Linked DNA regions of Homo sapiens. The protein of the gene in region 2 purifies or fractionates together with the protein of the main gene of each other region. This does not show direct contact. Each region holds a gene or a part of one and is shown on either strand. Other genes may lie near its edges.

What was found.
Region 1: the proteins of TREML2 (region 2) and SQLE purify together in Homo sapiens (affinity purification with mass spectrometry; 2 studies listed by BioGRID and IntAct, with this or other methods). This does not show direct contact.
Region 3: the proteins of TREML2 (region 2) and PDZD8 purify together in Homo sapiens (affinity purification with mass spectrometry; 3 studies listed by BioGRID and IntAct, with this or other methods). This does not show direct contact.
Region 4: the proteins of TREML2 (region 2) and DHRS7 purify together in Homo sapiens (affinity purification with mass spectrometry; 3 studies listed by BioGRID and IntAct, with this or other methods). This does not show direct contact.

The regions. Positions count from the first base shown.
Region 1 is NC_000008.11:125,001,493-125,008,515, reverse strand, and holds part of SQLE (squalene monooxygenase), read right to left. Parts: intron 5,341-7,023; coding exon 5,088-5,340; intron 2,992-5,087; coding exon 2,811-2,991; intron 1,126-2,810; coding exon 1,029-1,125; intron 1-1,028. UniProt on the Homo sapiens protein: Catalyzes the stereospecific oxidation of squalene to (S)-2,3-epoxysqualene, and is considered to be a rate-limiting enzyme in steroid biosynthesis.
Region 2 is NC_000006.12:41,198,149-41,205,717, forward strand, and holds the start of TREML2 (trem-like transcript 2 protein precursor), read right to left. Parts: upstream 3,002-7,569; 5' UTR 2,861-3,001; coding exon 2,806-2,860; intron 282-2,805; coding exon 1-281. UniProt on the Homo sapiens protein: Cell surface receptor that may play a role in the innate and adaptive immune response. Acts as a counter-receptor for CD276 and interaction with CD276 on T-cells enhances T-cell activation.
Region 3 is NC_000010.11:117,372,435-117,379,525, forward strand, and holds the start of PDZD8 (PDZ domain-containing protein 8), read right to left. Parts: upstream 3,007-7,091; 5' UTR 2,794-3,006; coding exon 1,922-2,793; intron 1-1,921. UniProt on the Homo sapiens protein: Molecular tethering protein that connects endoplasmic reticulum and mitochondria membranes. PDZD8-dependent endoplasmic reticulum-mitochondria membrane tethering is essential for endoplasmic reticulum-mitochondria Ca(2+) transfer.
Region 4 is NC_000014.9:60,162,376-60,170,238, forward strand, and holds the start of DHRS7 (dehydrogenase/reductase SDR family member 7 isoform 1 precursor), read right to left. Parts: upstream 3,024-7,863; 5' UTR 2,935-3,023; coding exon 2,802-2,934; intron 1-2,801. UniProt on the Homo sapiens protein: NADPH-dependent oxidoreductase which catalyzes the reduction of a variety of compounds bearing carbonyl groups including steroids, retinoids and xenobiotics.

The DNA.
Region 1 (7,023 bases), on a different chromosome or scaffold from region 2:
GAGCAGAGAAAACATTCCAGTCACCTTCATTAGAGGACAATTTCTAAGAGGTGGTAACCCTATGGGGAGCAGTCCAGAATTACATGTTTTTTACTACGATAATTTTTTTTTAAAAAAAGGAAAAATTGGCCGGGTGCGGTGGCTCACGCCTGTAATCCCAGCACTTTGGGAGGCTGAGGTGGGCAGATCACCTGAGGCTGGAAGTTCAAGAGCAGCCTGACCAACATGGAGAAACCCCGTCTCTATTAAAAATACAAAATTAGCCGGATGCGGTGAAGCATGCCTGTAATCCCAGCTACTCAGGAGGCTGAGGCAGGAGAATCGCTTGAACCTGGGAGGTGGAGGTTGCAGTGAGCCGAGATCGCACCATTGCACTCCAGCCTGGGCAACAAGAGTGAAACTCCGTCTCAAAAAATAAAACAAAATAAAATAAAATAAAATAAAAGGATAAATTGTTTTTAAAAAGATTCTCTTACTATTACCTGAGTTAAATTGCTCATTTTATCTGAATCATTTCTTTTATGTTGAATCTTGCCTTCTTTCCCCTGCTAGTTCCCCTCTGCTTCTCTGCTGATGTATATTACTGTTTCAAAAACTATTCACATTAGTTCTGTTTAAAATGTTTTTTGCATAGCATTCTGAAGTCCTCTAAAGAACAATGTGTTGCAATCTGAAACCCATCCTGTTGCATATGGCTTAGAAAGAACTCAGTTCATTTGATAAATAACACAGGCTGAGTATCTCTAATCCAAAAATCTGAAATCCAAAACTTTTTGAGCAGTAATGTGACAAACAAAATACTCATTAGATCATTTCAAATTTCAGATTTTCAGATTAGAGATGCTCAACTGGTAAGTATAATGCAAACATCTGAAAAAAATAAAAAATCTGAAACACTTCTGATCCCTAGCATTTCAGATAAGAGATACTCAACATGTAAACCGGTAAGCCTACTTTTTTAAAGGGGTAAGTGAAAAAGCAGGAAAAACAACATCTCTTAGGAAGAGGTGACATTTGGTATTTCTCACCTTGATATCTCCAGTCTCTTTATCCTTGTACTGAACTCCCATCACAACATCATCTTCCTCTAATAACTGTAACACAACACCTTCAATAAACTTTGCACTAAAGAATAAAAAAAAATACATTTCTAAAGCAGCACATTTCAGCAATTTAAATTAAATATAAATTCCTTATCTCCAGTTTATCCATATAAACTGGACATGCATGTGTGTGCAAACACGTGTCCAATGTGTGTTTTTTATTTTCTAATTTATCAACATTTAATACATATTACTAATGATTACATTAGTAATCATTAGTAATCATTAAATATTTTAAAAATATTTTAAAAAGTAACATTGGATTTTCATCTTAATTTGTTAAAAATAAATTAATTTGTTAAAAAATAAAATATAGGCAGAGAAACTTTACATACCCTCATACATTCATACACAGAGGGGAAAACAAGTATTGGAATGCATCCTGCAAACTGTTAAGAGTAATTATTTCTGGCAGGGCACGGTGGCTCACACCTGTAATCCCAGAACTTTGGGAGGCCAAGGTGGGCGGATCACAAGGTCAGGAGATCAAGGCCATCCTGGCCAACATGGTGAAACCCCGTCTCTACTAAAAATACAAAAATTTGCCAGGCGTGGTGGCATGTGCCTGTAATCCCAGCTACTCGGGAGGCTGAGGCAGGAGAATTGCTTGAACTCGGGAGGCAGAGGTTGCAGTGAGCCGAGATTGCAACACTGCCCTCCAGCCCGGGTGACAGAGCGAGACTCAGTCTCAAAAAAAAGAAAGAGTAATTATTTCTAGTCAGAAAGATCACAGGTAATTTTTATAATCTTTATATTTGGGACTATTTTTCCATTTTCTTTTTTTTTTTTTTTGAGACCAAGTCTCGCTCTGTCGCCCAGGCTGGAGTGCAGTGGCGCTATCTCGGCTCACTGCAACCTCCACCTCCTGGGTTCAAGCAATTCTCCTGCCTTAGCCTCCCAAGTAGCTGGGACTGCAGGTGCGTGCTACCACGCCTGGCTAATTTTTTCTTATTTTTAGTAGAGACGGGGTTTCACCATATTGGCCAGGCTGGTTTTGAACTCCTGACCTCGTGATCTGCCCACCTCAGCCTCCCAAAGTGCTGGGATTACAGGCATGAGCCACCGCACCTGGCCGATTTTTCCATTTTCATACAGTGAACATACTCTTCTTCCATGGATATCAAGTCTTTTTAGTCCAAAGGATTAAGTCCACTTGCTTCTTCACTTGCTTTGTCAATACTTTAGTCTGTGTCAGTCACATGAGGGTTCTCACGCTTAAAACTTCTTCAATTAGTGTTTTAAAGGTTACTGGTAAATATAAGTTAATAAACAAGAGAAGAAGCCAGTCCTAACAGACTGGGTCTTTAGTGAGAATGAAACAGGGATTTCTCCTTGCAGTTTTGTATCCTGACTTCTAATAGAAAGTATCGTAACCACAAACTCAAACTCCAAAATGTGCACAAATGGACTTATGCCTTAGTTACAAATATATCCTCTAAATTCCCGTCACATAAAAATTATGTAATTTTCATTTAGTCAAAGGAGAACTCTTCATAGTTCCATGTCAAAGGAAAATTCTCTATATGATATTCTTAACAAAAGCACTGAATATCTAACACTCTTTTGACTGACAGTTTATTTTAATATACATATGTTCTAGACTATGCCCCAAAAATTCATTAAAATTTATAAAATCTTATTTGTACAAAGGTCAAATTTAAATGCATTGATTCTTTAGTAATTATATATTTGAAACTGTGGTCTTACTTGGGCTCTGCCATAGCTGCTTTCCGGAGACTCATGATGAATCTTCCGTGATGGAAAGCTCTTCCACTCTGCACTTGATTGTTTTCTGACAGAGGGTAAGGAATCTGAACCTCTGATTTGCTTTCCTGATCATGAATCATGTAACCATTTACAACCTGGGCATCAAGACCTTCCACTGTATCTGCAAAGCAATCGAGTTCAAAACAATCAATTCTGTTAACACACCCAGCGTTAAACTAAGAACCAAAGAAGACACACACACATCAAAAATGAGTCTCTGCCTTCAAATCTGGAGAACTGAACAAAACTAATGTAACTATTTCAGAAACTGTGAATGCTTCTGGAAGTCAATGAGAGTCTTAGCAAATCTGTAATATCATTTAAAGATAACAACATAACTATTTCAGGTCTGTAATTCCACTTCAACTTCAGAAAGAAAATGCAACATGAAATAAACCATAATCCTCTCCTGAGTAAACCTGTTCTGCCATAAAGACATAGGAACACATTTAGTCCTTCTTAACACTTCTTTCAATGTATGAATATGTAGATTTGTCACCAAAAAGAAATAAAAATAAAATAAAACCAGTATGGAAACTCAAAAAAAAACCCCAATTTATATATAATGACTGAATATATGAAAAAGTAGATTTTCCAAACCAAATGGAAAGGGTAGAGTTATCCCCCAACTGTTGATGATTACATACTATCCATTAAAAGTGACTCAGGACAAACTGCAAAGAACTTTTTAGTACATCAAATAATTTAAATGGCAGCAAACAAAACACTGAATTCATCAGAATCATGTAAAAACTTCTTTCTTAAATCTAAAGCAGCAAAAGCAGTTGAAAAATAAAAAACTTTCAATAGAAAATATCACATTTTTAAAGTGCCAACCGAAAATTAGAAAGTTAAAAAATTAATTTTAAAAATAAAAACTAAAACAATACTTTGGGAAAGACATATGAAATAGAACAAAAGATTAATACATGTATATATAATAAAATTTACTCATTAAAAACCACTGGAAAAATATTAAGACGCCAATAGTAATGGACAAAAACATGTATGGATGATTCATATAAAGCAATATAGAAACAGTGAACAAATCAGAAAAAATGTTCAAACGATAAAAAAAATTAAGTAAAAATTGAAACAACAGGACACCATCAAAATCACTGATGAGATTATGATAAAACTGATAAATTCATATACTACTGGTGATACTATGAACTAATATTATATTTTAGAAAATATAACAATAATTATCAAGAACCATGAAGAAATTAGCATCCTTCGATGTAATAATCTTACTCTTGGAAATCCATGTAAGAAATTCATCCTAAAGACATAATATTTAATAATCTTTAAAGTTACATGCAAGAATAGGTTCACTATAGTGTTACCTAAAAAAGGATAACTGAAAATAACCTAAACATTCATCTAAGTTTGAAAAGTGAAGTACATTATGAAGTCAACTGAAAAACAACTATGCTTGGGCTTAAAAAGATACTGATAAAGAATGGTTAACAGTATTGGAAATATGTTTCTGTCAAGTGAAAAAGTGGACTCTAGTATATATATTAGTGACATAAAATGTTCAAATATGGTATTGACTGGATGTCTGTGTCCTCCCAAAATTCCTAAGCTAAAACTCTAATCCCCAATGTGATGATATTTGGAGATGGAGCCTTTAGAAGGTGATTAGGTCATGAGGGTAGACTCTCACGATAGGATTAGTGCCCTTGGAAAAAAAGACAGGGGAGGGCTTGCTTCTTTGTGTCTCTCCCACCTTCCCCACCCCACCCCACCCCACCACCCCATCCCCACACAAAGTAGACAGTGCATAAATATTTCCTAAATGAATAGCCAGTGCTTAAAAAGCACTGGTTGAATGGATGAATGGTGCTTAAATAAAAGATTCTAAGTAATAACACTGTAACAAGTATACAACATACCCTCTACAAATGACAGTTCCCTTCGCCTTTCACAAAATTTAATGCCCTCATTCTAGGATTTTCCAGTCCTTAATTTTGACCATTACAATCTTTTGGCCATTTTATTATATCTCATTAAGTCTAATTCACATCTAATCATACTATTAAATGCTTATTTTATCCTTTGCTCTCACTTTCATGCAAATTTGTTGGTAAATGAGTATAGAAAATTTTATAAATGAAAATAAAATGGAATACCTTCTTACTGGTCATAGGATGGTCTAAGTGAAGAGTGCTTGTTCATACCACGTAACTCTCCTGAAAATCAATATGAACCTACCTCCAAGACCAAGGTCTTTGAGAACATGATAACCACCCGGCTGCAGGAATTCTCCAACTATTCTGTCAGGCTCTTTTAAGTCTCTCTCAATGACTGTCACCTTTCTTCCATCTCTGGAAAGCACAGCTGCCAAAGCAGAGCCAAGCACGCCAGCTCCCACGATGATAACTTCTGGGTCATTCTGAGAAGATGTTGATGTACAGGCAGCTGTTCCTATTAAGCTTGTTTCTGAAATATTGGTTCCTTTTCTGCGCTGTTTAAAAAAAAAAAGGTAAACTAGGTATCCAAATTTGTTAGATTCAAATCATGCTACCGCTATGTGGACACACTGGACTTTTGCATCCTAGGCTAAAGCTAGATACTAAATATTATCAAACCAAACAAATTGTTACATTTTAAAATCTAGATAATATATAAAAATCAATGATATCAAAATATTCGTTAAATAAAAGTGTGTCATATTATCCCAATAAAATTAAATATTTATTGTTTTCTAAACATGATATTTGGAAAATGTTATACAGACATATTTAGAAATCCACACTGGGCCGAATATAATAAATGTTTATAAGGGGCTTCAAAGACTTATTATAGGGCAAACTGTATCATTAATAACTAAATTCTTCAAATATATCCTGGGAATCGACAAGATGCAAATCACTTACAACTTCTGATTTGAGTTCATGTTACAAACTATTCGGCACCTTTTAGACATTTTCTTTTTTTTGTTTGTTTTTTTGTTTGTTTGTTTGAGACTGAGTTTCACTCTTGTTGCCCAGGCTGGAGTGCAATGGCGCAATCTCGGATCACTGCAACGTCCGCCTCCTGGATTCAAGCAATTCTCTGGCCTCAGCCTCCCGAGTGGCTGGGATTATAGGCATGTGCAACCATGCCCGGCTAATTTTGTATTTTTAGTAGAGACTGGGCTTCTCCATGTTGGTCAGGCTGGTCTTGAACTCCCGACCTCAGGTGATCCTCCTGCCTCAGCCTCCCAAAGTGCTGGGATTACAGGCGTGAGCCACTGCGTGCGGCCTTAGATATTTTCATTATTCATCTTTATTTTCTCTTTCTGGATTTTCATTTGAAAAATCTATGTTAATTTAATATCACTTTTATATGACAAAAGGATTGTCAAATCCTGCCTACCAATCTATTAATTGAAGATTATCTAAATAAACAAAATTACAAGAGAAGAAATAACTCATACCGACTCTTAGATTTGACTTGTTTACAATTTTGGTCCTTAACATATAAGCACATATTTAATTTATCCCTCCTTTTTCCCCATCCTGATACTCTAAGAGATCCTAGTCAAAGAGGTGGTCCCCAAAAAAGGAACAAGGAAAAACATTAAACCTGTCACTGGCTGAACTGACAGCAAAACTTTAACTTTGATCATAAAAAGATGCAAAGTCTTGTTTTGAGAGATTTATGACCACTAAGAACAACAGTGCACAGTGGCTTTTTAAAATGAACAATTCAATTTTGTAGTATTTCTTCTTGGTAGATGGATTCACACATTTGAATACATTTCAGATACAGAATTGCAAGGAACCACCTTCCTTGAGTTCTTTGACCTTAATGATTAAGATAAGACTAAATGCCATTTGAAGGGGTTTTTAAAAAATAATCAAGCAAAAAGGAAGACGAAGCCTAAAATCCTTTAGAACTTTACTCTGTGATTCTAATATCCACCCAGCATTCTTTTACCTCTATAGTGGACTGGGAATTTGTCTATTCTTTTTTTTTTTTTAATTTCTCTCAGAAAAATACTTTTCTGTCCTTTTACTATGGGAAGATCTCAATATTCTACTCTTCCCATTAGTATGTCTTAATGGCCAGAACTGACTATATTTAAATTACTGTAGGGGGCAAGACAAGCCCCTTTTGTCATCTTAACCAAAAATGTGCTTCTTCATAAGTTTTTCCTGTTTTA
Region 2 (7,569 bases):
GATCCCAGAGGTGTTGCGCATGCACCAGTATCGGCCTGAGTCCTGGAGCTTGAGGGCCACCATGGTGATGTTGACCACCTTGGCCTGGGCATCGTCCTGCAGCAAGTAGCGGGGCCCTTTCACCCAGACTCGGGCAAAGCCAGGCTCACACTTCTTCTTCCTGATTTTGCACCAAACCTTGCCCTCCACGCGGTTTTTGTAGCCCTTATAGGAGCACTGCACAGACAGAGTCTCCCCTTCAAGGAGCCTCACTTTTGTGTATACACTGTCAGCAGAGGGGCCTGTGGAGACAATACTTATTGAATAAGGTCTGGCAAGAGGAGAGGAAGAAGACATCATGAAAGTTGAAGATCATGGTGAAGGGTAGAGTGGATATTGTCCTGCTGTCACAGAACCCACAGATTGAGGGGGAAATACAGCCCCGCCTTCAGGGAGCTTGCCCCAATCTGAAGGGAGGTGAATGGGCCCTGAAAACAGCTAGCTTCCAGTATTACAGTGGAGACACAACCCCCGCTCTCAGGGAGCTTTCAGTCTGATGGAGGAGGCAGGTATATCCCTCAGTGAGTCCCCAGTCTAATGGAGGAAACGCAGCATTTACACTCGGAGCTCCATCAGACACAGCCCCTTTCCTCATGGTATTTTCTAGTCTGATGGGAAAGTGACAAGCTCTGTCTTCAGGGATTCCCAGGGAATTCATTTTTGTTTTGTTTTGTTTTGTTTTGTTTTGTTTTTGAGACGGAGTCTCGCTCTGTTGCCCAGGCTGGAGTGCAGTGGCACGATCTCAGCTCACTGTAACCTCCGCCTCCTGGGTTCAAACTATTCTCCTGCCTCAGCCTCCTGAGTAGCTGGGACTACAGGTGCCTGCCACCACGTCCGGCTAATTTTTTGTATTTTTAGTAGAGACGGGATTTCACCATGTTAGCCAGGATGGTCTCAATCTCTTGACTTCGTGATCCACCTGCCTCGGCCTCCCAAAGTGCTGGGATTGCAGGCGTGAGCCACTGTGCCCGGCATCCCAGGGAATTCTTGTGGGAAAAACCCAGGTCATGCCCTCAGTGAGACAGATGCAGAGACACAAACACAGGTCATTAAGTTGTGAAATTTCAGTGCCCAACTAACTAGGTAGATAAGAAAATCTAGTATTTGAAAATATGATTAACAGTTATTTATTTCACAAATAGGTTCACTTAGTCCTCTTTAAATAATAACTCTCCTTAGTTCATTCCATCTGGTGTTTAGTTTTAAAATATTCTAGTTACATAAAACCCATAGATCAAGCCTGTCTAAATATACATGTAAACAAACTCCCAATGGAGTGTGAACCACAGGATTCTACAATTATTCACTTTCCACCTGCAATATCTTTCTCTCTATGCTGAGGAGTAAGATGTGGTCCAAGCCTTCATAATCCACAGTCTGGTAGAGACAGAGCAGAACTGGGGTGTGCAGGGTGACTCAGGGGACAGAGAGAGGGAGAAAGCTGCCTTGGGCTCCCTCCACCCCTCTGCCTGCCTTAAGCTCAGCTGACTCTTCTGATAATTTCACCCCAGAGTCTTCCAAAAAAACCACATATAAAAAGACTCTCCCCCATAGTAGAGAACAGAGAGCACACATTTTGGAGTCAAAATAAACAAGGGTTGAAACCCTGTTTCTACCACTTAGTGGTGTGATTAGGTCACCTGTTTGATACAGAAATATCAAAACAGACACTTGACTGATACAGAAATATCTCTGTTTCTTTATCAGTCAAGTGAGAATAGCACCACACCCCTCACAGGTTGCTGTGAGAATTCTGCCCCAGGTCAGTGCTTTGCACACAGTGCATGCTCAACTCATGCTTCCTTTTCCCACATGCTGGGGCCTCCCAGTTCCCCCAATGGAACCCAGAGCTGTGACAGTCAAGGGCCCAGAATCCAGGACATCTGTCCCACCAGAATCCAGGATATCCGTCCCAAGTCCCAGCCAGCAGCCACTAGAGCTGAGGCTCTGTGTGAAGCAGCACCCTCTCTAAGCATCCCTCTGTCCCTTGCAAACTAAACAGAATGATCCAACTTCATTATTTGGTGGATGAGCCCAGGATTTCTTAGCACAAGAGAGACCCCTTTCTGCCCTGGCAGTGGGAAGCTGTTTCTCTACCCTCTGGGAGGTGCAGAGTTGGGTGACCTTGGGATGGGTCTCCAGGGCAATGTCTTCATGTGTGCCTACACCTCCCACCCCTCTCACAGGCAGTGGTGAGTTTTGCCAACCCCCACCATGCCCAGAACTGAACAGGAAGTGGTAACTTGGTTGCCATGGCAGCGAGAGGGGCAGGAATGGGTGAGGTTCCTCAAGGAGCATTGGTATCTGTGAGGTGGGAAAGGCATTCACACACTGGTCCCTTCAGGACAGAGGCAGGGACAGGATGTGGCATCAGCATTTCAAGAAAAATGTTCAAATTCAGTTCAAAACACACATGATGCAATGATTGCTGTCATAACTAAGCAGGGCTTCCTGACAGAGGCCAAGCAGAGAAAGCTATTTGTGTGAGGAAATTGAGGGCTCTGCTTTAAAGCCTGAGGAAGCCTAGCAGATAAAGGAGCCAATGCAGAGAGGGTCCAGAGCTTTATCTTGGCTTGGGAGGCCTGGGTTAGCTTCGCCTGGGGCCTGATATTAGGGTAAAGAGCTAAGTCAGCCCTAATCTCCTCCTTCCCCAACCCACAAAACACTAAACAAGAAAACTGCTGGTAAGGAGGGTAAGAAAAAGGCCCTGAGCTCCTGCCTCTGTACCCACTCCCTCCTCCACAAGTCAGCCCCTTCTCCCCTCACCTGAGACGCAACCCTGTGGCCACAGCAGCAGCAGCAGCAGGAAGGCTGGGGCCATGGTTCCATCCAGCTGGGCAGTGTCAGGCCTGGAGATCCAAGGTGAGGGCCCACCCGACACAGGATGTGCCACCTGGGCCTGCCAGGGAAGGACCCGGGGTTCTAAAAGTGAAGCTGCCCATTTAGGGAAGTGAGGCAGTGTGGGACCCACTGCCCCCAGCCAACCGCAGGGATTCATTGAGCCTATTATGAGGGCGGTGCTGGCAGCTGTTTCCGCCCTTTTCCTCGGAACTTCAGGCAGGTGTGGCTGCTCCACCCAGTCTGGGGCCCCAAGCCGGGAGGACTCACAGTCAGAGGGCTCCCCGCCCTCCCCAACCTCCCCCAGAAACTGGTCCCTAGGATCCAGCAAGGGGGCTGGGGTGAGGCTTCTGGAACGTCAGGTATAGACCTTCCTGGAATCTTCTGGGCTCAGAGACCCAGGGGTGCGGGCTCTTAGGCTGAGATGGAGCATCTCAGACCCTAGTTTCTTACATATATACATTCACAGGGAAGTTCTTATAAACTCTCATTCATTCATTCATTGCAGATTCTTTCTGTTCCTTCCTCTCTCTCTCTCCCAGGCTCCTGGCTGCTCAGAACAGTCACTTGTGTTCACTGTTGCAAATAACCTCTTACAGGCTCACTTGAAATCTTACTTTTGTCAAGCGGGAAAAATGCAAATTGTTAAGACTCAGGGCATAAATTTTGGGTTGAGGGAGGGGTTCCTGTACTCTCACACACAGGTGTGCATGCACATGCACTCACACTCACAGTCTCACTTTGTCTTTTATTCACTTTCACACACACACACACACGCCCATGCACACAGTCTCACACACACCCCAGCAGCCTCTCCTTTTCCCTATCCATACGTCTCCTCTCTCTGTCCCTCTCCCTGCCTCTCCTCCTGTCGACTCTACTCACCATCAGCTCCCTCTAGACTCCTAGTCCCTCGTGCAGGCTTCCTACAGCCTCCGCAGTACTTCCCCTCACCCACCTCATCTCAAGACCCCCTTCCTCCCCTGCCTCCAGCCTACGTCAGCACGCAGGCAAGTGCCCTCCACTTCCTCCTGCTCAATGCTATCTCGCCTGTACAGCCACCAGCTCCAGTGGAAATGACCCAGCACTAGGCCCAAGACCACACCCTTCACTTACCCCAAGGCCTAGAATCAGAAGCATCAATTTTTGATGTCCGGTACCTGTGTCATCTGCTCCTTCAGTGTGTGGGGACCCAGCTGGACTCCCGTGATTATGTATGCTCCCCCTACTCACTAGTGCCATGTTTCTACTCCTTAGATGGGACTGTCAAAAGGTAAACTGAGGCACAATAAAATTTTAAACAGATTATTTCAGCAAACAACAATTCATGAATCAGGCAGCTCCAAACAGAAGAGGTTGAGGAGCTCCACTGGGGGAATGCAAGGGGAAGACTCCTACAGGACAAGTAAACTGAAGAAAATATTTAATTAGTTATAGTTATATAGTTCCCTTATTTGGCCTATCCTGTTGGAAAGACCCTAGTTAATTATATAAGTTTCTTTTGATTGGTTGAGCTTAAGTTCTATTTTTCCTTAATATACACATTTACAAGAAATAGCTCGTGTTAAGTTTCACTGATATTTGCAAATCAAGCAAAGTTGAGGTCACTTATGAGGCCTAACTGTTTTTTTAATTTTTGCTCAGGGACTCTTCAGGCCTGGTCTCCATTTTCATTAATTTTAACAGGACTCAGAGCAAAAAGTCCTCAAGCTTGCATGGCCACAATCTTAAATTGACCTTGAAGCCCCAAGCTCCAAGCAAAGAAGTCTATCTCGGCTGACCCTAAGCTTTTGTAGTCTCTCAACTCATTCACTCACTCATTAATTCATTCATTCATTTGTTCATTCCCACAACCTCATTGCTATGCATGGGGCTAGGTAGGCACTGGGGGCGTAGGAATGAGACACGATTGTCACTTGAGACCTCTCAGCTCACAGACGTGTTTTGTTTTCCTTATTCACCCTTCCTTTTTCAATGTTTCTCACCCAGTCCTCAGAACTTCCTGAGCTCCCTGAGTTCAGGGGCCATCTCCCCTCCCCAGCACACACAGTAAGTTCCTCCATCCCTTCCCCCATCAGAACAGTAAGTTGCTTCAGGAGTGGGGGATTTATCTCTTGTGGGGACTTTATGCGCTTGGAATCCATGATTCTATGAAACTGATACAGTGCGCCCAGCACTGAGCCAATCATCGTCTAAAGTGTGACCCTTGGGATCACTGTGCTGATGAGGGTAGAAAGAATCAAACATTCATTCGCTGATCGAGGAAGTATGCACTGGATTCAATCTTTCTTAAGAGAAATTTGGAAGCATTGGTCAAAATCATTAAAAATACGTATACATTAGACTTTTACATCTATCATTTGATTTAATACAGCAGTGTATTTTGTCTTTATATTTATTTTTCCCATTTAAAAATTAAGGCCTAATTTACATACAGTACTATTCACCCTTTTCAGTGACGAGTTCTGGGAGTTCTAGAGACTTGTATCCAATGCCGTAATGGAGACAGAGAAGAGTGCCATCATCCCGAAAAGCTTTCCTCTGCTCCTTGTTAGTCATCCCTTCAGTCCCAGACAAACACTGATCTGGTGGGGTTTTTTCCTGTCATTTCTCTCTTTCCAGAATGGAAAAGTGAAGCACTTTATGTTGATTTATTCTGGTGAAGTCCAATATATAATTTTTATGAATCAATTTTTATGTCATATCTAATAAATCTTTGCTTAACCCAAGGTCACAATGACTTTTTTCAACAATTCTGTGAGCTATAATTCACATAATATAAAACTGACCCATCTAAAGCATACAATTCAGTGGTTTTCAATATATTCACTGAGTTGTACAACTAACACCAATTTTGCAGGATTTCCCCACCCAAAGAAACCCCATGCCCGTTAGCAGGCACTCCCTGGATCCGTTTACTGCAGACTTGGTGGCTTAAAACAGTATTAAGTTATTGTCTCGCCATTCTGAAGGCAGAAGTCTGAAGTCAGTTCACACTGTATTGAGATGAAGATGTCGACAGGGCTGCAGTCTCTCCAGAGACACTAGGGAAAAATTTGTTCCTTGCCTTTCCAGCTTCAGGTAGCTGCCAGCATTCTTTGGTTTGGGGCTGTTTTACTCCAATCTTCAAGGCCAGCATCTTCAGTCTCCCTCTGCTCCATCTTCCCATCACTTTCTCCTCTTTGTGTTCAAATCCCACTCTGACTCTCTTACATAAGGATACATGTGATTGCATTTAGTTCCCATCTACGTAATCCAGGATAATCTCACCATCTCAAGATGTTTAACTCACTCATATCAGCAAAGATCATTTTTTTTTTGTTTTTTGCCATATAAGGGTAACAATCACAGGTTCCAGGGATTAGGACACAGATATCTTTTAAGAGACCATTTATCAGCTTACCACAGTCCCCATTCCTACAGTCCCAGGCAACCACTAATATTTTTGTCTTTCTAGACAAAAATATCTTCAATCAAAAATGCCTTTATCAATTCTGGATATGTCATAAAAACATAATTGAACAATATGTGTTCCTTGTGACTGGATTCTTTCATTTGGCATGTTTTCCAGGTTTGTCCATGTTGTAGCTGTACTTGTGCTATACGTTGTATTAATACATCATTCCTTTTAAAGGCTGAATAATATTCCACTGAATGGATATATATGTTTACCATTTATCAGTTGACAAATATTTTATTTGTTTCCACTGTTCAACTATTATAAGCAGTGTTACTATGACTATTCATGTACAAGTTTTTGTGTGGACATACGTTTTCATTTCTCTTGAGTACATAACCAATAGTAGAACTACTGGGTCATATGGCAACTCTATGTTTAACATTTTCAGGAACTACCAATAGTTTTCCAAAGTGGCTGCAAATTTTACACCCTCTCCAGCAATGTATGAGTTCTCATTTCTCTACAATCTCTCCAATACTTGTATTGGCTTTCTGTTTACAGCCATCCAGTGAATGTACTTAAGTTTTGAATTGTAGTTACCTAATGACTAATGATATTGAGCATCTTCATCTTGAGCATGCACAATTTGCTCATTTGTATACCCTTGGAAAAATATTTATTCAATTGTGTTGTTTGTCTTTTACAGCATTTGAACAATGTTGTGCCACATTTTTCTGGCTTCAATTGTTTCAGATAAGAAATTCACTACAATTAGAATTGGTATTCCTTTATAGATAATTATTTCTCTCTGGCCATTTTTACGATATTTTCTTTGTCTTTACTTCTCAGAAGGCTATCTATGCTGTGTCTTGGTGTGTATTTCTTTGGGCTTATTATATTTGGGATAAAATCAGATTCTTGTATTTGTAACTTTAGGTCTTTGGGCAGATTTGATTACTTTAGACGTTTCTTTGAATACATTTTCAGTCTCACATTTTTTCTCCTTTCCTTCTGGGACTCTGATGATGCAAAGGTTAGCTCTTATGTTAATGTCCCGCAGATAGCTGACGTTCTGGTCATTTATTTTCAGTCTGTTTTCTCTCTGATCAGACTGAGTAAATTTTCTCAGTCTGCCTTCCAGTTAACTAATTACATCCTCTGTCATCTCCACTCTCCTACGGAGTCCACGTAGTCAGCTTTTAATTTTGGTTATTGTCGTTTTTAGTTCCCACATATTCTATTGTCATTCTGTTCCCAGAAGAAGAAAAAAGAGTAAATGGAGCAGAAGAACT
Region 3 (7,091 bases), on a different chromosome or scaffold from region 2:
AATCTCACTGTCATTGGCTAGTCTACAAATTTCAAAATAATAATCTAGTCAAATTGTATTAACTGAAAGCTATCAGAAAACATCATAATTGAAGTTGTGATAGAATACCAAAATTTCTAGCAACTTTTTCTCATGACTTTTTTGGCAACACACTGCTATAAATAAACATCTCTCACTGCTTAAACACTAGAACCGAGTTATAATTTAATCACTGATATTCCAGAGGTTAAAAGTAGGTTTCATAAAGTATGTTCTACTTCACAGAACCAGAAATCGAACACAGTGAACAACCAGTTCACCACCCTCCGCAAATCTATGGAAATATTTCCATTACAAAGTAAATTTCTCCTGCCACGCAAGTTTTAAACTGTCACTCTGCGCTGTTAGCCTAAACAAAACATAATTGGTAAGGTACATCTGCCACATACAGAAGTCAATAATCCATTCCAAACCCAAAATATTTCTGGATTATCTTGCTCCTGAAAATTGACACTGGTAGAAAATTAGTGATCCAGAAATAGGCAACTTCCACTAAAAGGCAAGTAAAATTAGGTAAGTAAAATACAAGACTGACATAATTTTATAATAAAGGGCAAAATTTTAAAGGCTCAAATGTCTTAGTGAATACAAAATTAAAGGAGGACCGAAAGAGAAGTTAAAAATTCAGCTTTTTACAAAAGAAAAAGCACCTTCCACTCCACCTCTAGCCCTAAAAAAGTCTTTCCCCTTCCACTCCTACAATATTAAAACAAAATTTATATACTACTCAAAACTGTATACCACAAAATTTAAGCCATCAGATGCTGGAAGGCTTAAACAAAATTAAAATCACTACCTAGCATTAAAATACAATTTGTACAGTGACTTCAGGTCCCTTGAGAGAAGAACTTACAGTCACAGAGAGTAAATGCTTGATGGGCAGAGTCTGGATCTGTGTTCTACAATCTACCCAAAATGGGCAAATGACATTAATACAAAATGTAAAGTACACTATGTACAGGCTCCCAACTCCTTTCCCATCTGCTGTGGAAAGTATTCCCGGGCCGGGCGCGGTGGTTCACTCCTGTAATCCTAACACTTTGGGAGGCCGAGGCAGGCGGATTACTTGAGGTCAGGAGTTCGAAACCAGCCTGGCCAATACGGTGAAACTCCGTCTCTACTAAAAAATACAAAAAAAAAAAAAAAAAAAAAAAAAATCAGCAAGGCGTGGTGCCATACGCCTGTAACCCCAGCTACCTGGGAGGCTGAGGCAGGAGAATCGCTCGAACCTGGGAGGCAGAGGTTGCAGTAAGCCGAGATCGCGCCACTGTACTCCAGCCTGGGCGACACAGCAAGACTCTGTCTCAAAAACAAAAACAAAAAAAACCCACAAAAGTATTCCTTTGCAAGAGTTACCACCTCTGCCTTGAAAGGTGTCAAACCATCAAAGCAAAAGTGGCTTGCAATGTCAAATTAGCACAGACCTGGGCTATAAGCACACTCTTCACGCGTGTACTGTGTCCAGGAACAATTTCTCAAAGCGGCCAAGGGGATGCTGCAAAGCCAGTGACGCGGCTGCCCTCAATGCAGCAACCACATAGAGGGAGAGTTTCTCAACAGTCCCAGAAGCGACTCCTGGGGATTAGGGTAGGCTTCCCTTCCATTTCCAATATGCTGCTTATAAAAGGAGACGATTCTGCCCGCGTTGACAGCACCCTGAGTCCCCATGAACACGCGAAAAGGTTTCTAGCTCCTATCAATGCCGTTCGGAAGCAAAGCAAGTGTTCACGACTCGCCTTGATCTGGGGCCCTGTCCAGGGTGGGAAGGCCCCAGAAGCAGGCGCCAGGACAGAAATGAGCCTTTGCCCTTCCCAATCCACGCAGCGTCCCGCCCAGGCCCGGGTTCCCGGCAGCCAGGCCCCCTCCCCGACCTCCAGCTCACCTGATCTTGTAATTCGGTAGGGTGTGCTTGCGCTTGATGATCTTCTTGAGCTGGTTGACGATGATGGAGGTGAGCTGGGGCATGGGCCGCCCTTCAAACTGGGAGCGCACCTCGAAGTCGATCAGCGGGTCTTCCACGAAGGAGAAGAACCAGTGGGTGAAGGGCACGCGCGTAAAGACCAAGCGCAGCCTTCCCACCACGCGGGACAGCTTGACAAACAAGTAGGCGGACTTGCCGAAGACCAGGTCCACGTCGATGGCCAGGTGGAAGCCCCCGTTGTACTCCACCTCCGCCTCGAAGGCCAGCTCCTCGGGGCAGGCGGCGGGCAGCGCCTCCCCTTCAGGGCCATCGGGCTCCCCGGTGGCCGAGGGCACGACTGGCCGCACGAGCCGGATGGTCTTGATGAAGGGCACCGTCTCGCCCAGGAACACGTCCCGCAGGCTCAGCCCCTCCAGCAGGCGCCCGGCCGTCTTGGTCTGCAGCAGCTCCTCGAACTCCACCTTGATCTTCTTGGTGACCCAGCGGCGGGTCAGCGCGGTGTCCCGCAACTCCCGGAACAGGAATAGGATGGTGGCGTTGAGGAAGTAGCAAGTCTCCCGCGTCGGCGGGGCGGGGGTCTCGGGGGCCGCGGTGGGGGTCGCGCCGCCCTCAGGGGCCGCTCCGGAGGGCTCCTCATCCCGGCCGCCGCCATAAAGGTACTCCCTTAGGAGCAGGCCCGGCACTGGCTTGATGTAGCGGAAGCCCTCGCCCGCGCGGGCGGCCTCGTCCGCCGGCGGCTCGGGCTGTCTGCGGTACAGCAGGAAGAACTGGGCGAGGAGCGTGAGGAAGGAACCCAGCACGGCCGACGCCAGGATCATGAGCAGCAGCCCCATCCCGCCACCGCCTCCGCCCGGGCCCCTACTCCCGCGCCCACAGCGCCGCTTTCTTCACGCCGCCGCCCCCGCTGCCTCCATTTTGAGGACATCGGGCGGCTGGGTCGGGGCGAGCGGCTCCGTGGGCCTCGTCCAGGGGCTCGGGCCGGCGCGCTGCGGCGCCCGAGCCCGCAGCGGCCCGCGCCTCCTCAGACGCTCCCGAAGGGCCGGTGTGGCGGCGGCGGCAGCGGGGCCGGGACCGGCGCCTCCCTCAGGCCTCCACTCATTGGACGAGCAGCGCGTGACGTCAGAGGCGTGCTCGCTCCCGGCGGCGTCGCCCAGCAGTCGGCGCCCGGGCACGCGGACGCGGGTCCTCCTTTACTTCTCTGCGGCCCTTCCAACCTCGTCCCCCCACGCCAACATTCCAATCCCCGCGGCGCGCGCCGCCACCCACGTGGCCGTCACTTCTGGAGCTGCGGTCGGGATCTGGGAGGACGGCTGGGGACGCGGGCTGGAGGATAAGGCGGTCCGGCGGAGCGGGCCTGACGCGTTCCGGATGCCGGCCATCCCGTTATCCTCGGCTGCGCCCATCCCCCGTCTCTGGCCGCAGTCCCCGCGGTTACCTCTGCAGCGGCGTCGCTCATCCTGCGGTGTGCTTCTTCCACTCGCACCCGTGACAGCCCGGCTGGCAGCGGCGCTTTCCCTGCGGGCAGCACCGCAGACGATCCGAGCGGGCCTTTCGGACGCTTCCCAAGCCCACGGCGAGAGGGGACCGACTGCCTCAGAGGCAGCCATCGCGGACCTGCCGTCCCCCCGGCAGACGCTCTGCGTCCGCGGAGGGTGGGCCCTGGGAAGGAGGGACGCAGGGAAAGGGCGCGCCACGCGGAATGACTTTCCCACCGAGGTGGATCTTCGAAATTTCAGGGAGGAGGAAGTTGAAAGAACAGCCAGGAGGAGAGATGCATAGTGAAACGAGTTTGCCAAGTGATTGGAAGATTAATATGCGACCCGCTGTCAGTCTCTGGTTAAGCCGGTAGTCCATCTATGAGGCAGTTATTCACTGTTAGCCCCCACCCACTTGACAGATGCCAACACTGGTGCAGAGAGCGTGGGGAGGTTGCGTGGGGCCGCAGAGTGGAGCCTGGTTTATCTAACACTAAACCCTAATGTCTTGATCACTACTCTCTGCCCTAACACAGAAACTGCTTCAGTTGTAAGCAGGCCAGTGGGTTCCCTAATGTTCAGGAAGGGAGAATTGGGGAGGCGGATTAGGGAAGACGGCAAGGAATTTTGCATAGAGTAGCACCTTAACCAAAGCCACGAAGCTAAGCCAGGTTGCCCAGCAACAGCGTTACTCCTCCTGCCCTCTGACTACTTAGTGGTTACATCATAAATGCTTATCCCTCCAAGCACGTGGAGTTCCAGTCCTGCAGGAGTCAGATATCCCATACCTTAAAGGCCGATTCTGGCTGTACCTAAGGAGCCAGGGCAGGGCTCCTCTCTAGCCCTTGAAAACCTTCAAGCCGGCCGGGCGTGGTGGCTCACGCCTGTAATCCCAGCACTTTGGGAGGCCGAGGCGGGCAGATCACGAGGTCAAGAGATCGAGACCAGCCTGGCCAACATGGTGAAACCCGTCTATACTAAAAATACAAAAATTAACCGGTCGTGGTGGTGCGCGCCTGTAGTCCCAGCTACTCAGGAGGCTGAGGCAGGAGAATCACTTGAACCCGGTAGGCGGGGGTTGCAGTGAGCCAAGATCACGCCATTGCACCCCAGCCTGGGCGACAGTGCAAGACCCTGTCTCAAAAAAAAAAGAAGAAAACCTCCAAGCCAAGGATTCTCTTAACTGTAGGTGATTCTACCACAAAAATAGACCTGACCCAGCTGGGACAGGTACAGAACTTCGGAACCAGGCTTATCATGCCTTACCGAATCATGCCCAGATACGAAACCAGAATGGCTTTCATTACTATGAAGACATAAGATAGGTGTCTGCTGAGGAACCATGCTCAAACCATGGCCGAGATTTTTCGGAGATCTTGGCAACTTCTGTTCTCTGGTCCCCTTTGGTTCCTGGCCTCTGCTTCTGGGCTGCTCTCTGGGATCTACACTGTTTCAACTCAAATGAGAAATGTAGACCCTTCTATGATTTCCACCGTAAACCTATTCATAACATTCATGCACATTGCATATTATAAATGTTACAGAAGCTGGAAGTAGGGTGGCATGAAAGAAGTTATTCACATTCCTGAAATATAAAACCCTCAAACTGTATATTGATCCATCCCGAGTTGCAAAATATTCTTCACCCACCTCCCTCCTCAACAATGAAAGTTTGTGGTCTTCATGGGAATGAGTCCTCAGTCTTCATCTTGCAGACTCCTTTCTTTTCTCTTCTCCTCTCACTTCTGCGCTCCTCAGAATACCTGTGAGAATCTTAAATCTTCTCAGTTTGTTTTACAGAGTCAGAGTCATTGCATTCCCCAGCAAAACTTGACCCCTTAGGGACACACTTCAAATCCATGAAAGAGCTCAGCAAACCTTTTGGGAAGAAAAAAGTATTCTCCCTTGTGTGAAACATGACCAACATTGATTAAACACTAATAATAATAATACAGAGAACTGACCATGTGCCAAGCACAGTGTTAAGCATGTTATTTAGAAATATTTAAATATTTCAAACATTATTTAGAAATCAAAATATCATGAGTTTTTGTAAAGTCAAATATGCAGTCATGCACCATAGAAGGATGTTCTTGTTAACGACAGACTGCCTATAGGATGGTGGCCCCATAGGATTATAGTACCGTATTTTTACTATGCCATTTCTGTGTTTAGAGATGTTTTGATACACAGATACCATTGTGTTATGGTTGCCTACAGTATTCAGTACAGCAACGTGCTGTATAGATTTGTAGCCTAGGAACAATAGGCTATACAATATGGCCCAGGTATGTAGTAGGGTTTCCCATCTAGGTTTGTGTAAGGACACTCTGATGTTCGCACAATGATGAAACTGCCTAAAGATTCACAACTTATGTCTGTTGTTAAGCCACACTTGACTGTGTTTGATAAGTTAGGAGATAATGCTCTGGATAATATTGGTGTTAGCATGCCCTTTATTTTATGAAATTATACTATGTTAATAGAGACGAATTTGTTTTAATGCTATTTTCTGGAAAAGGATAAATTCAGCAACCCCTCCCTTTTTTTCTTATATTAATGCTGGTTCATAGAAACTCAAAAGCCTGAGAACCACTGGCCCCAGCTCTGAAGATCGATGATTCTGAATAGGTTTTTAAAGGAAGCAGTTGTGCTTAGCCTCCCTGCTGACTTTTTAATGTGTTTTAAATGACATCATTGAAATTAAGCTGCCCCAACAGCCTTCATGGAAATATCCATTTCAAGGTCGAAGTCAGTTGAATACTGGAAGATGGGTTGCATATAAGACATTCTCACCAACTAGAGGGATGCATGGACCACTGCTTGACTATGAATCATTCCTGGTGACCGCGAAAAATAATGAGAAAGCCAAACCACGTAAATGTGCAAAGTTTGTGAGTAGCATGAAAGCAAATTTGATTTTTTGAAAGATGTAAAATAATGCAAATATAGTGAAATATGGTGGGAAACATAGAGTTTATAAGGTTTGCCTAACAAATGATACATCAACAAACCATTTTGTGAACTGGGAGAATTCAAATTCCACAACTATTTTTTGAGCATCCAACAAGTACTAGGCTCCAGGGATACTGAATGAACAGGGGCGCTGCGCCCCAGGTGGAAGCAGACACACATCTGCATAACTCTGATGATAGGAGATAGTGCTCTAATAGAGGCACATGCAAGGTACTATGGGAGCAGAGCCTTCTGGTTCAGGGGCAGTGACAATTGATTGCAAGGAACAGCAACTACCTCAGGCTAACTTACAACTAAAATTGGATTCACGTTAAGGATGCTGGAATATCTCCAGGAACTCAGCTGCAAGATGTTCATAGAAATCCTAGAGTAAGAAAACTGTCTCTCACTCTCATTTCCTCTGCCCCCACCCCTACCCAGTATCTTATTTCTGCATCTCCCTGCAGGTCTGTGCCATTTTACTCCAGAAGGCTCTTGGTTTCTACTTCCCCATTACCCTCAGCACACAGGCACTTTGGGAGGCACCAGCTCTCTATCCAGATCTAGAGGGTCCTATGTCTCTGATGGCTAAGGTAGCCTGCAAGCTCAATCTCAAATCCTGGGAGAGAAATCTCCAATTGGCTGTGCTACTCCAATAATTTATGACCAAGGAGCTTGCCTCTTCTGGGCTGCTGGTGGGT
Region 4 (7,863 bases), on a different chromosome or scaffold from region 2:
ATTAAAAAAAAAAAAAAATCACCATGTGAGATATATGCTTGGAAATGCACAGAATTTCTCTAGACGGATACAGAGGAGGCAGGAAATGGTGGCTGCCTCGAGAGAAGCACACTAGGTAGCTAGGGCACAAGGGTCAGAGAAAGCTCTTTACTTTTTACTATATATCTTTTTGTATTTTTACTTTTGTATTATGTGAGTGTGCTATTTTTTTAAGTGACAAAAAATAATAAACCTACAGAGAAGTCAAGAAGGATTTTTTTTTCTTTTTTCATCTTGATAGAGTCTGCCCATCTCTCCAGTCTGAGCTGTTTTGGGAATCTGAGTCTATTTCAATTTTCCTTTAATCTTTTCTTCTTTCTCACTCCCTACCTCCACCAGGAGTCTTTTTAGACTTTTTTTTCCCCTAAAACTCTCCTGTGAAATGTTAATTCCACAGATATACTGTATATCATTTATGTACTGTACATATATCTGTGCTTTATACATAAAAGGAGTTCTATAAAGTTTACTCCTGCCAGGCGCAGTGGCTAATGCCTGTAATCCCAACACTTTGGGAGGCAGAGCGGGGTGGATCACCTGAGGTCAGGGGTTTGAGACTAGCCTGGCCAACATGGCGAAACCCCAGGTCTACTAAAAATACAAAACTTACCCATGCGTGGTGGCACGCACCTGTAATCCCAGCTACTAGGGAGGCTGAAGCAGGAGAATCACTTGAACCCAGGAGATAGAGGTTGCAGTGAGCCAAGATCATACCACTGCACTCCAGCCTGGCCAACAGAGCGAGACTCTGTCTCAAAAAAAAAAAGAAAAAGAAAAAAAGCTTACTCCTTAGTTAATAAGCATATGACTAAATAAGCATATGACTAAATTTTAAAATTAAGTTAAATGTTAAATTAAAATTTAAAAGTTATTAACTTCTAACTTTATAACTGTATTTGCTGAAAAACATTTTTATGGTTTTTGAGACAGTGTCTCACTATGCTGCCCAGGCTGGTCTTGAACTCCTGGGCTCAAATGACCCTCCTACCTTAGCCTCCAGAGTAGTTGGGATTGCAGGTACATGCCACCACGCCAGATTTTTGCTGAATAACTTTTATGTAACTTACTTAGATAAATAGCAATTTATCAAACTACATGTGCAAATTTGCAAATTATATAACTACATAATGATAACAATGTAATTAAATTTAAAATCCTTCAAACTGTTCTTTTCCGACAAAACACAACTGAAAATATTAAATGAATTTCTTAAAATTTTCAATGATCTTAACTTTTAACTTTTCCTTAATATGAGAAAATAACTTTTAACTTAGTAGCTTAGAGATATTCATTCAGATGTTGTCAATAATTTTGCTTTTTAGCACTTGACATAATTTGATGGGTTGAATATTTTTTGTAGGATTAAATAATAAAATATAATCTATTTTCGTTTAATTCTCCAAGTCCAAGTGAACACAAAAGCACTAAAGATCAAACACAAACAACGTCTGCAAGGCAGCCAATGGCAGCCAATAGGCACACATATTCCCCCGCTGAGGTGGAACAATCGATCAAGAGAAAGCCCTTGGTTAATGAAGTTGTGCAGTATTTGGGATTCCTGCTTTAAAAGGAGAAAGCCCAATCACTTGCCATAGTTTTGTAGCACTGCTGTGGCGTCCATGTTGTGTATTTTTCGTGAACTCAATGTCAGTGCTGCACATGCTATACCCAAGAAAACCCAACCAGAAAAATGAAATACTAAGGAATAATATTTTCTCGGGTGGGGTTAAGCTTTGGAGGGGCACAAACCACTGTATTACCAGATTTTTTTTTTTTTTTTTTTTTGTCCACAGGAACCAATTCTCACCTTGGGATCAATATCACCCCCCTCAACGCCCAACCCATAACGCCCCCCCCAAACATAGTCTATCTTTCGAGCTACTATCTCTTCCAAGCAAACTTTGTAACATGCTTTGAGTATTTTTATACCAGAAACTTGGTCCAGGGAAACCCCATTTCCCCAAGTCCTTAAGGATCCAAAGCCTAGCTTTCGGTAGGTCATTTAATTTCTCTGAACATCAGTTTCCCTATCTGGAAAATAAGATTAATAATGCCTACCTTGTAAGAGTTGTTGTAAAAGTTAAATGTTATGTGTGTAAAGCGCTGAGCCAACATACAGCAAATGTACACGATGTCAAATATTAAGCAAGACACAGATAAAGTGAGATAGGCAGTATGCCAATAATGATCTCGCTCCAGCAAACTGCCATTTTTAGTTCTTTCTAGTGTTTGACTAGAATGAGTAAGTAGGTGAAGGACTTCGGATTATCTCAGATTTTATTTCAAAACTGCAGGAGTGGGAAGTGGAGGACAGACTACTTCAGGTAGTAGAACGACCGGGCTTCCGGTACTTACAAAGGAGTTTCCCTTACAAACGCAGGGGGACGCTCACTGTTTCTCAAAGTATCGTCCTCTGAGACAACACCAGAATCCCTTGAGTCCTGCGTAAGATGTCAGAGTCCTCAGGAGCACCGCCGACTCCAGTGCTCTCTTAACAGTTTGGCACTCCCTGGAGAGGTTTCCTAGCCTGAATGGCAAGTCCATGCCATCTTCCGACCAGTACAGAAGACAAAGGGGCTTTTTAGCCCTCGCCTCTTCCTCCCCAACCCGCAGCCCCTGCGTAAGGGGCAGCCGGGCCTTCGGGAAGCTCCACGCAACCCACAAAGGACCCGGGATCACTGCAGAACCCCCGGAGACCCGGACACGCCTCGGCAGCTCCGAGCCCGGCCTCCCACTCGGGAGAGGCTTTGGCCGGTCCTCACCTGGGCGTCGTCCCTGCCACTCGGCCCATAGTAGCGTCAGGTCGCCGTCAGCCCTCAGGAAGCGCAGCAGCTGCACCAAGAGCAGGAGCAGCGCGCACAGCACCAGCAGCCACAGCAGCAGCTCCCAGTTCATTGCGGCCGCGCACGCCCAGCTCGGGGGGAAGAAGACGGCCCGCACCAGAGTCGCGTCGCTGCCCTGCGGGATCGCAGCGCCACCCCTTCGGCCAGCCCAGAGCCGCACTGCCCCGGCTCCGCCCAGGGAGCAGGCCGGGAGGAGGAGCGGCTCGGGCGCGCCGGGCTCAGCACTCGCGGCCCCACTCGCGGTCCTTGGGCGGCCCGCGCCCTCATGCGGCACACCCGGCGGGGCCGGCAGATTGCTTGAATTCAAGTGTCCGAGACCAGCCTGGGCAACATGAGGAAACCCTGTGTCTACCAAAAATAAATAAATAAAATTCCAGTATTTTTAAAGAAGCTGATTCAAACATAAGCTACATATTATACTACGTTATTTCCTCTCTGTACAGGGACACTATCAACGGCCAGGAGACAGATAGAATCATTCTTGCTTGGCCCCTCTTCTCCATTCCTATTCAGAAAGAACATCCCCTTTTCAAGCTTCAGTATCTTTTCATGAGGTCGAGAAAGTGCTGAAGAAAGACTGTGGCTATCACTCAAGACCCCACAAGCCAAGGCAATGGTCCCTCCATGGGGACAAGGTCCTTTTACAATTAGAGAAAAAAAGACTGAAGCCATGTGCTGTGTTGGCACCTTACAACCTGATTCTGACCACACACAAATTTACTCTGGTGTCTGTTTGGCAACCAAAGCCTAGGTTGGTACCAAATCCTCCCCTTACCCAAGCCATTATTCACATCCTAATGTAAACAGCAAATAAAAACAGAGAATGTAATGAAAACACCAAGGTCTTGCCTACTCTAATACACAAAAGAGTAAAATACTGTTTTTGATTAATTTCCGTTTGAAATGACCTTCAAAACATTTAATTGCTTCCCACTAAATACCTACATGTATTTGAGGCATCAATAGTAGCATCTTTCTTGTTTTCAAGCATTTGAAAGCAAGAGGGTTTTCCATTCACAAGCCTCAGAGGGACCCAGTTAGAGTGCATAGAAACTAGGCCATGTATGAGAACGACCTGTGGCCAAATGGAGAAAGTTCTGGGCGTTGATGCAGTAGAACTTTCATCCTCTTCATTTCCTAGAGTACTTTGTGTGCTCTGATGTCAAAGGCTCTTCCTTGGCTGAAACTAAATATGACTTTAAAACAGTCATGGAAATAAAAGAAGCAGTGACTTCCCTCCCCAGTGTTGTTTTCTTTTTCTAGTCTTGCCTGCCAAACTTTTGTTTTTCTTTAAATGTTTTGAAGAATGTTACTTGCAGTAATCAAATTTCCTTAAATAGCTCTTCCTTCTCTTTTTAAATCCTATTATAAACCCCCTACCTGCCTCCCCACCCTCATCCTTCTCTAAAAAGCTTTTTGGGGTTATCTGGACTCAGAGTCATCTTTCCCTAATCTCACCTCTTTTCACAATTACTTCTGAACTATATCTGAAATTGTTTTTTAATTATTTTCAGGGTTAATATAGTATTGTTCCAATGGAACTTTAGAATCCTTGAAATAAAGTAGCAAATCTGATGCTTCTTTTGAAGAGTCTGGAATACATAGCTTAGTGTTGACATGAGAAGCAATAAGCCCACGTTGATTGAATTCTCCTTTCCTTGAAATTTAAACCTCCTTGATAGAGAGTAGAAGGATAGTTACCAGAGGCTGAGAAGAGTAGTGGGAGGGTTGGGGGGGACGTGGAGATGGTTAACGGATACAAAAAATAGAAAGAATGAATAAGACCTAGTATTTGATAGTGCAATGGGGTGCCTATAGTCAATAATAATTTAGTTGTATGTTTTAAAACAACCAGAAGAGTATAATTGGATTGTTTGTAACATAAAGGATAAATGCTTGAGGGGGTGGATACCCCATTTACCATGATGTGATTATTACACATTGTATGCCTGTATCAAAGTATCTCATGTACTCCATAAATATATACACCTACTGTGTACCCACAAAAATTAAAAATTAAAATTCAATTTTTTAAAACCTCCTTGAAGTTCGGAAGTTAATGTTAAAATGAGAGTTGCTAGCATTTAATAAATCAATCTTCTCTAAGTATTATTAAAATGCTTTGAATAAAGTCCGAAAGTCTTTTCTATAACTGGTAACCTTCATTTTTAATTCCAGATGTAATAGAATGGTACCCTGCCTTCCCTCCTTTTAGTAATGGTCACTTTTGATGGTCTGGGGTCAGGCCCATTCATGGCAGCTAAGGCCCATTCATGGCAGCTAAGGCCCATTCAGGTCAGCTAAGATGAAGGCAGTTGTGCGTAAGCAATTGCCATCTTCCATAACAAAAGCATTATACAAAAATAACTTTAAAAATCCAGATCCTCCAAGATCGGCAGTCCCTAGGCGGGGGAAAAAAAGAGTGAGTGGAAACTGTGAGTGGAAACAGGGACTGAGGAATCTAGGGAGGGAATATTCTTCCTCAAGAACAATAAGGGGTTTGTGGTTTTTGATTGAGGATGTTTTCACATCCCTTAGATGCTTTTGGAAATGTGTTGGATGAACAGTGGCCATAGTGCCAGCTAGCCAGGGTGTCATCAGAGTGCTAACGATCTGGGCACTATGTAAAGACATACCCAACAAAGAATTGCCCTGCCCCAAAAGCTCACAGCACCCTTACTCAGAAATCCTGCAACCTGGCCACGGTGGAGAGGAGCTCTGCAATCTATTAGCAGCCTCCCTCCACAAGCTCTGGCTTACACCTGCCTGGCTGTACCCCAGCTACAAGCGTTCAGGTCATGGTCTAGTTTTCTGATATTCTTCAGGCAGACAAGGTCTTACCTAGAGTCTTATTTATAAGAAAATATAACTTACTTTCTTACCTTTAGTAATCTCATGGGATCCCTCAATAGGAATATCTCACTGCACTGTTCACCACATGCAGTTCCCCATATCAGTGCATTGATATTTTGTTTAGATTAGCCAATTTCCACAGTATCTTGGGTCTCTTAAACATAAGCAGTTTATAGCTCTCATTCTCTCTCCCTTAAATGCTCTGTTTCAAACTTCCCTTTATATATCTTGTCCATGATTTAGTAGTGGTGGTTGTTATTCTAATCTAGAACTTCAAACACTCATGCACACATGAGTACATGCAAAGCTGGTGAAATTTGAACGAGGTCTGTGGATTTTGCCAATACCAATTCCCTGGTTCTGTTATTGTTCTAAAATTATGTAAAATTTACTAGTGGGGAGAACGGGGTACAGAGTACACGTCTGTTCCATCTTTGCAACTTCCTGTGAATCTATAATCATTTTAAAGTAAAAAGTTAAAAAAATTAGGTTAAATTTCTTAAAATATGCAAATATTTTCTTAAAATTCTAAAACTGATCAATGCTTTTTCCTCTCCTTCTCTTTTTTCTCCCCTCTCCAGCCAGGACCAGCCTTGGAGATAAGCAGAGTGAACAGAAATTTATGGTCTCAGATTTAAGAAAAACAAAATTCTTTCTTGCTTCTTAAATCATACTCCATCCCATTGGCTTGCAAACATGCTGACACTCCTCATAATTTCACTCTTCATAAACCAAAGCATAAGGTCAGAGGAGAACTTGACATATTAGAACACTTAGGCATTGAAAGTGGTTAGTCTAACTAACCCATTGAAGTTTTGGAGAACCTGGGACTCAAATTTTGGAAGATGTGACAGATGATATGTTAACATACATTGCACCGAGGCTGAAGTGGGAGGATTGCTTGAGACTGCCTGGAAGGCAGAAGTTGCAGTGAGCCGAGACTGATGGTGTCACTGCACTCCAGCCTGGGCAACAGAGCAAGACCCTGTCTTAAAAAAACAAAACAAACAAACAAAAGAAACCAAAAAAAAAAAAAAAAAAAAAAAAAAAACCATTGCACCAAGTAACAGTCAACTTTTCAGCAGAGGTGAGTAGAGTTAATCAGTTAAGGCTTTCTGGAATACCAGCCCACCTCAAGGCCTTGTACATACTGTTCTCTCCACATAGAGGGATGGCCAGAAATCCCCCAGATGGATCCAACAATGCTCACCTCCTGTGTGCAAACCACCATGTATTTCCCTCCCAGGTTGTATCAGGGTTGATCACTGTAACCAGCAGAATGCTGCAGAAATGATGAGTGTGTGACTCCCAAGGATAGGTCACAGAAGCTATTGCAGCTTCTACCTCTTGCTCTCTCTTGTTTATACCTTTACTAAAGTATAATTCGAGTACAAGAAACTGCACATATTTAAGGTATACAACTTGATGAGTTTGTCAAATATATACACCTGTGAAACCATCACCACAATCAAGGTAAACATTTCAATCACCCCCAAAAGGGGTGACCCTTTGAAATCCACCCATCCTCCACCCCTTCCCTAGGCAGCCACTGATCTATTCTCTGTCACTGTATGGAAACACCTTACCTGTTTCCTCTGTGGGATGTAAAGTCCCATTTCTGGATCCTTTCAGGTCCCTGTCTAATGTCTATTCTCTTTGCCTTGCCCTTACTTTTGTTCAGATCAACTTTAGCCTTAGCAGGGAATTTGGTTTTGTAATTCCGAACCCTAAGCAGTCTTGGATTGCTGTCTGCTGAGATGGGGCATGAGAGCAGTGAGGAGCGTGATCTCTTTTAACAAAGCCGTATGCTGTTCCCAGCTATCTAAGACCAAGGCTTATCTCTTTCTAGTAGGATCTTGACAGGAGCCACAAGAAGTAACCAAGACAACAAGAGTTAACCTGTCCATATGCTTTCTAATTGCCAGGCCTATTCTAAGTGCTTTATATATATTAAATCCCTTAATCTTCACAATAATCCAGTTAATTAGGTACTATTTTAATTCCCATTTCCCTGATGAGGAAGCTTAATTGTGATTAAGTAACTTGCCCTAGGTCACACAGCTAGGAGACAGGGTCTTTGAACCTAGGTAGTCTAATTTCAGTCTTTGCTCTTGAACCACCATATAAT